Linked DNA regions of Homo sapiens. The protein of the gene in region 2 interacts with the protein of the main gene of each other region in a biochemical or structural test. Each region holds a gene or a part of one and is shown on either strand. Other genes may lie near its edges. The genes, in order: OTUD4 and ALKBH3.

Region 1 (3,825 bases), on a different chromosome or scaffold from region 2:
ATATTGGTAAGAAAGCATATAGTTACATGAGGAGTTTTTCTAAATAATCATGAATTTCAAGATTTCAATGATTTTGCTCACTTGCCTTAAAAGTATTGTGTTGTATTTAACTCTGCTAGTGGATAGGTGCGGTGGCTCACGCCTGTAATTCCAGCACCTTGGGATGCCAAGGCGGGCAGATCGCTTGAGCCCAAGAGTTTTGAGACTAGCCTGGGCAACAGGGTGAAACCCTGTCTGTATTAAAAAATACAGTCCTTGTTGGTAGGCAACCCTTGGTTAGGATCAAATTTGTTTGCATATTATCTTTAGCTACTGTGTGTTTTTCTTACATTTCTAAGACTATAAGGGCTATTTGTACTTCATTTGTATAAAAGGCAGGCAACTCAATATGTATCTGGTGGTTAGAAATAGTGTTAAAGCAAAATGACCTCTTGTCTTTTTCTGTCTTCCCCCACTCACCCCTTTCTTGAAGAAGCCAGCAGAACATGTGTCTTTGTCAAATCCAGCTCCCCTTCTAGTTTCTCCAGAGGTACATCTAACTCCTGCGGTGCCTTCTTTACCAGCCACTGTGCCAGCCTGGCCAAGTGAACCTACAACTTTTGGACCAACAGGTTAGAGAAGGGTTTAGAAAATCTAGCCAGCCAAAATACCTTTCTAGTCAGAGACTTCAAATTCTTGAGTGGAAGTTTGACCTCTGAGCAGGATTAGGTGTGTGGAGCCTCACAGAGCTTTCTGTGATACTCTGCTTTGCTCTGCTTCCAATGTGGAAAGACCATGTACATTTGGTGTTGTATTCATCTGACATATGCCCTCATAGTCTCAGGAGCATGATGTTTGAGCTGGTTGCTTTGGTTGCTCAGCACTAATTAGCACCACGGTTTGATGCTTCCTTCATGGGCCAGCTCTTTATGGCCCCGTAATGAACCCCTTGACCAGCCCCATGTCCTACACGTGCCTGCAAGAGCTACTATTAGAAGACATTGACTCAGAGCTTGTATCCTGGACGTATTTCCTTCTTGGTGTCCAGGAGGGCTCTTGGTTGATACTAAAAGGTACTACTTTAGATTGGCTTTATCAGTTATACAGCATTCTTTATAGGTTAATGTAAGCATATTTGTAGAGATTTTCATCTTTTGTCATTTTGATTCCTTTTCTTCTCTTTTGTAGGTGTCCCTGCTCCAATTCCCGTTTTGTCAGTGACACAGACTTTGACCACTGGACCTGATTCAGCTGTATCCCAAGCTCATTTAACACCCTCTCCAGTTCCTGTGTCAATACAGGCAGTTAACCAGCCCTTGATGCCTTTGCCTCAGACATTGAGCCTTTATCAAGACCCACTCTATCCTGGGTTTCCTTGTAATGAAAAGGGAGATCGAGCCATTGTACCACCTTATTCACTGTGTCAGACTGGGGAGGACCTACCTAAAGGTGAGCTCCTTCTCCAAGTTCAAATCGACTTTATCAAGTCCAAATAAGCTTAGTTAAGAAATGAAGAGATGTAAGTAGAGGTCAGAGGTCTGGTTTCTTAGTAAGCTCAAGGATGGGAAGGACAGCAAAGTTTTAGCTATTAGTCAGTCATTCTTGTTTCAGCTTGATTTATTAGAAAATGTATTATAATTTTTTTTTTTTTTTTTTTTTGAGACGGAGTCTCGCTCTGTCACCCGGGCTGGAGTGCAGTGGTGTGATCTCGGCTCACTGCAACCTCCACCTCCCAGATTCAAACAATTCTCCCACTTCAGCATCCTGAGTAGCTGGGATGACTACAGGCACATGCCACCAGGCCTGGCTAATTTTTTGTATTTTTTAGTAGAGACGGGGTTTCACCGTGTTAGCCAGGATGGTCTCGATCTCCCGACCTCGTAATCTGCGTGCCTTGGCCTCCCGAAGTGCTGGGTTTACAGGTGTGAGCCACCGCGCCTGGCCCAGAAAATTTTTTTTTGTTTCTAGCATACTTGTTAATGCTAGTATGCTTAGTAATGATACCTCCTTCTGTGTTTTTACATAAATGGACTTGAAACCATTCTGAATTACAATAATAATTTCACTAATTAGATACCTAAACACTGTGGAGCTTTATCAACACTGGTCTGCATTTCAGACATGCATCCGTGAAAAAGTTACAGAGAAAAGCAAATATAGTATGTAGTGGCTGTTAAAGTACTATATTTAGTATGTCTTATTTTTGTTTAAAAAATTCTTTCAAAGTTTGCTTTCCCTCTTTATTTTTAAGGAATTTACACCTCCCTCCTTTTTAGTTTCCAAAATTTTATATCTGTAAATTTGAGTAATGCACTGACTACTATATGCTGTTTACCTGGATTTATGTGGATGTTTTTGTTTTATTAGTTAGTAGTTTGATGTTTGTGTCTATGAGTAACTGGCTCATGGCATATGAATACTTGGAAGAATATTATCCTGCAAATGATGCTACTAATAAGTTAGGTTTTATGTTGATTTTACCATTCTTCTCAACATTTTTATTTCCTAATTTTTAAACCCCCAGAAAAGTTGAGAAAGAAAGCCACCTGAATGTCCTTTACCCAGATTCAGTTTTAATGAGATAAAAATTTCAATCTAAGCCATTTTGGGATTTATATGCTAACAGACAAAGCCTATTGAATCTGGAATTAACCTTTGGGAACAACCTGTTTTTGGGTTGTGTTATATTACAGTTTTTATCTATGTTTTGTATCACAGGCTAGAGAAGACAATTATAGTAGGTAAAATTGTCTTTAGAACTATATATTTAATGAGGATGATTTAAAAAAATCTCTGCAGATATATAATTTTAACAAGTGATTACTTTTATTTTTAGATAAGAATATTCTTCGATTCTTCTTCAATCTTGGTGTGAAGGTATTTACATTTTATCATCTTAAAAGTTATTTTATTCATTAATAGTGTTTTAAATTATTACTAGTGTTAACTCTTACCCTGTCAGTCAGTAACCTAAAGTTTACTAAATCTCATCATTTTAAAAACCAGCATTTTCAGTACTATATCGTTTGTTTTTGGTGCTAGTAGAGGCTCCAGTTTTACTTACTTTTTTGTCTTAACTGGTGATGGCTTAACCTGTGAGTATATTTAAGACATAGCTGCATCTTTGGGCAGCCTAGTGGAAATGCCCTTGCTGGGGAATAATTAGATGTAAATCTGGGCTTGAAGTTCTGCTCCATCACTCTTTAGCTGAATTTCCCTGGGCAAGCCATGTAGTGTATCTGGGCCTAGCTTTTTTCATTTATAGAATGGGGGTAATATTCTTTACTTGCCTCCATTATTGAAAAGATCAAAGGAAATAACGTGTACATCCTCCTATGTAAGATAGTGTGGTTGTTGACTAGAAGAGCAGAGGTATCCTTTGGGAAGTGGTCAACCTAGAAATAGCTTTTCTTAGGTTGGAGAACTCTGTCCTTGTTAAATGTTAGGTTTTCTCCTGACCTAGATTAGTTTTTGTGGGTTCTAGACAGTTAAACTATGAAACGAAGTGCCCTACCTTTAGCCTGCTGACCACTTTCATAAAAAGAAACTTGATTATTTTACTATCTGCTGCATTGCTTAATTTTAATGTATTTAATGTTGATTTTAATTGGTTAGCCAATTAGCTGGTTATACTTTCTTCATATTTTGGTTTTTAGCTGAACTCTTGCAGAGGAAGGATTTGGAATATTTCATTTTCAACATTATCCCTCCCTGATTAGAGGTCTAACTTAATCCTTACATTCGGAGTACTCTTGGGGGCTCCTAGAATTGCAGAGTCCTGACATTGGAGATCATCTACTCTTATACTGACATTCCCAGTAAAACAAATTCAGATGTTAACTGGCC
Region 2 (3,825 bases):
TCTGGGATGACAACAGCCATGGACGCTGCTTGTTTCTTGCAGGATGACGAAGATGTCTCTGAAGAGGGCGTGATGGAAGGTGGAGTCCAATGGGGCACAAAGGTTATGCCTCCTTCTAAATGGCGAAGGTAGTATTCAATAATTTTCTTTCCTTTTTTTAATATTGCTGGTATATTGTTTCATTGCAATTTTTTCCATGGTACTTTCAAAACCAAAGAAAGATTTAATATCTAAACTTGCAGACTGTTCAAAACGGGTCCAATCTTCATTTTCAGGGTGAACGGTATAGCAATTGGAAAATGTTTCATTATGACCCTCAATGTGCAAAGTACGTTCCCGAGAATTCAGTGAGTTCTTCTGGACAAAATAAACGTAATCAACTCCTGCAATCTTCTTCAGCAGTCTTGGTGCATCTACATCCAGCTTGCAGCGCCTTTCAATGACATGAACAGCCCCATCTTCACTCTTGAATTCATTCACAGTGTCACTGCCCATGAATGTCGGAATCAAAGGACACGTAGGGAACCTCCTTTCATAGGCAGCCATAATTAATTTGAAGGGGTATTTGTATACCCTCACTGGTGACTGGTATTTTTGCACCATGATTGTAATACAACAGCAATCCTTTCACACCTGTCTTGCCAAGGATAATCATTAAGTATGGTATTTTAAGCTGAATATGGTGAGAGGATATTAAAACTTACAAAACTGAATATTCTCAAGGAGCCCAAAGTCTAGTTCTTGTCAGAATGGCTGGGCCTGGGATGTGGGGTGGCGACGGGCGCTCATACCAGCAGCTCTGCGGAGCAGTCGCGGTTCCACTAACAGGTGCTGACTTCTTAAAGGTTAGTTGCAATATGGAATCTGAAACCATGTCAAACTTTTCATATTATTTTATATATAAAGCCACTGTCAGCCAGGGCAATAAACTGAGACCCCTCTCTATAAAAAATAAGCCAGGCACAGTGGCACGTTTGTTGTCCCAGCTACTTAGGAGGCTGAGGCAGGAGGATCGCTTGAGCCCAGGAGTTCAAGGCTGCAGTGATCTAGGATTGAGCCACTGTGCTCACTCTAGCCTGGGCAACAGAGCAAGACCCTGTGTCTCTAAAAAAAAAATGCTTTAAATAAAAAAAAATAATAAAGCCATTGGTCCAGCCTACACTTTGAATAAATCTTTAACCTTGTATGGTTTTGTAACATCAACCACTGGTCATCTGGAAAATATTAGTTCACTAAGTTACACAGATCTTCTAAATGCTGACACATTTCATTATAAAATAACAAAAAAAATTCTCATCCAACAATATTACCACTGATCTCAGCAGAAAAGCCTAAATAATGGGAAGAAGTCAGGCTCAAAGTGACTGTGATGGTTAATACTGAATGTCAACTTGATTGGATTGAAGGATACAAAGTATTGATCCTGGGTGTGTCTGTGAGGGTGTTGCAAAAAGAGATTAACATTTGAGTCAGTGGGCTAGGGAAGGCAGACCCACCCTTAATCTGGTGAGCACAATCTAATCAGCTGCCAGTGAATATAAAGCAGGCAGAAAAATGTGAAAAGGAGAGACTTGTCTAGCCTCCCAGCCTACGTCGTTCTCCCGTGCTGGGTGCTTCCTGCCCTCAAACATCGGACTCCAAGTTCTTCAGTTTTGGGACTCAGACTGGCTCTCCTTGCTCCTCGGCTTGCAGACAGCCTATTGTGGGATCTTGTGATTGTGTAATTAATACTTAATAAACTCCCCTTTATATATATACGTGTGTGTGTGTGTGTGTGTGTGTGTGTGTGTATCTATCCTATTAGTTCTGTCCCTCTAGAGAACCCTAATAGTGGCAGATACCAGTTTTCTAAAATTCTAATTTTTGCTTGAAAACCTAACTTTTATCATTAGTAAAAAAAATCTTGTCCATTGTTTTCCTTGAAGTGACATTCACGTCACTCATTTATGAGGAAATGTCTGCCAAATACTCAAGTTTGAATAACCACAGTCGGTCTGCCCGTTGTATTTTAAGCAAAAACAATCCACAACAAAAGTAGCTAGTTCAGCTTACAGCTCAAACAATCACACTTTAGTTTGTAGCTGGAGTACTTTAGGTACACTTTTAATTTCATTAAGAAGACTATTGGGAAGACACATACTCAAAGACCAAGATTTAATAAAATGAATAATGTTTACTACTTCATCAATAGACATTCTTAAATGAAACTGGCATTTTTTAAAGTTTACACTGGAAGCGCATGATGATGACGAACACAATGACTACTAGCAGAGTTTGGTGACAATGGCTTGATTCATGCTAAGGTGCTGGCAGCTTTATCCACCATTACCATCAGTGCAAACCCAACACAGTGAAAATACCATACAGACTTAGTATTATTATGAAAATAGTTTTACTTGTAGATTCCCAAAAAAGGTTTCATGAACCCTCTCCAGGGATCTACAGATTATACTCTAAGAACTGTTACTTTAGGGAACTCCTTGAATGTCTATTGCATTAGTCTGTTCTCATGCTGCTAATAAAGACATACCCAAGACTGGGTAATTTACCAACAAAAAGAGGTTCAATGGACTGACAGTTCCACATAGCTGCGGAGGCCTCACAATCAAGGCAGAAGACAAAGGAGGAGCAAAGTCACATCTTACATGGCAGCAGGCAAGAGCGCATGTGCAGGGAACTCCCATTTATAAAACCATCAGATCTCATGAGACTTATTCACTACCATGAGAACAGTAAGGGGGAAAATGCCCCCATGATTCAATTATCTCCACCTGGCCCTGCCCTTGATACACGGGGATTATTACAATTCAAGGTGAGACTTGCGTGGGGACACAGCCAAACCATATCATGTTATATGTTTCGCAGTGAAGAAACAGACGTTCAGCAAAGGAAGGAATATTATTGTTACTATTATTAAGTATATCCCATGGTTGTCAGGTAAAACTGCCAGGGAAGCTTACATAATCACTCAGCTTTACTCTGATGTGAAAACCATGGTTAAAGATGGAATTCCTTGTTGTGGATACTACATTATAATATTATATTCTAAGCAGAGGATTTTAAAAAATAAACAGCAAAAACAACAAATAGTTGGCTAATGGGACACCTGGGGAGACTCAAGAAGCCTCCAGAAGTTGGAAGTTTCTTTATCTCTTGTTCTCCTTTTTTATTGTGGTAGAAAAACACATAACATGAGATCCACACTCATAAAACAAAAATATTAAATAAACCTTTGTTCAAGAGAATAAATTCCAAAGTGAAATTCCAATAATAATGTCAGCAGGCTGTATTTCCTATTTACTTTACAGCTTTAAATTTATCTTCATAGCGATAAAGATCAGATGCTAGAATTACACGCTTAACAAGAAAAACAAGAATGTAAAGGAGGAAGATGGGCTTTTTTCTCCAATGTTACTGGGAATCTAATTAGCACTTCCCTGACTTGCTCAGGGACTGAATACTGAGATAGCATAAAGTTTGTGTTATGTTTCTAAGTAGGTATTTTTTTTCTGGGTTATTTTTGGTACTGAAACAGTGAGAAAAGGAAGAAAAAAGGGGATAATGAACTAGAGGATTAATTTAGACTCTCCAACCAATACTCTATATTCAGATGCCTCAGAACTGAATGTCTAAATTAAAATTCAGCATTATCTCACTGTTCAGTGAAGACATTTTATCCTTAAAAGACATTTTAGGAAAAGAATACAAAAAATATGAATCACAGAAGTGAAAGGACCTATTCAGTGGATTTCAAACAGTGTTGTATAGAGTTCTAGGTACCTCAGAGGTACCTCTGGGTCTACAGGAGAAGAAAGGAGAGGTCAA

What was found.
Region 1: the proteins of ALKBH3 (region 2) and OTUD4 form a complex in vitro, tested with the Homo sapiens proteins (one large-scale study listed by BioGRID).

The regions. Positions count from the first base shown.
Region 1 is NC_000004.12:145,138,982-145,142,806, reverse strand, and holds part of OTUD4 (OTU domain-containing protein 4), read left to right. Parts: intron 1-472; coding exon 473-611; intron 612-1,167; coding exon 1,168-1,428; intron 1,429-2,815; coding exon 2,816-2,856; intron 2,857-3,825.
Region 2 is NC_000011.10:43,894,234-43,898,058, reverse strand, and holds part of ALKBH3 (alpha-ketoglutarate-dependent dioxygenase alkB homolog 3), read right to left. Parts: intron 757-3,825; exon of another isoform or gene 1-756. UniProt on the Homo sapiens protein: Dioxygenase that mediates demethylation of DNA and RNA containing 1-methyladenosine (m1A). Repairs alkylated DNA containing 1-methyladenosine (m1A) and 3-methylcytosine (m3C) by oxidative demethylation. Has a strong preference for single-stranded DNA.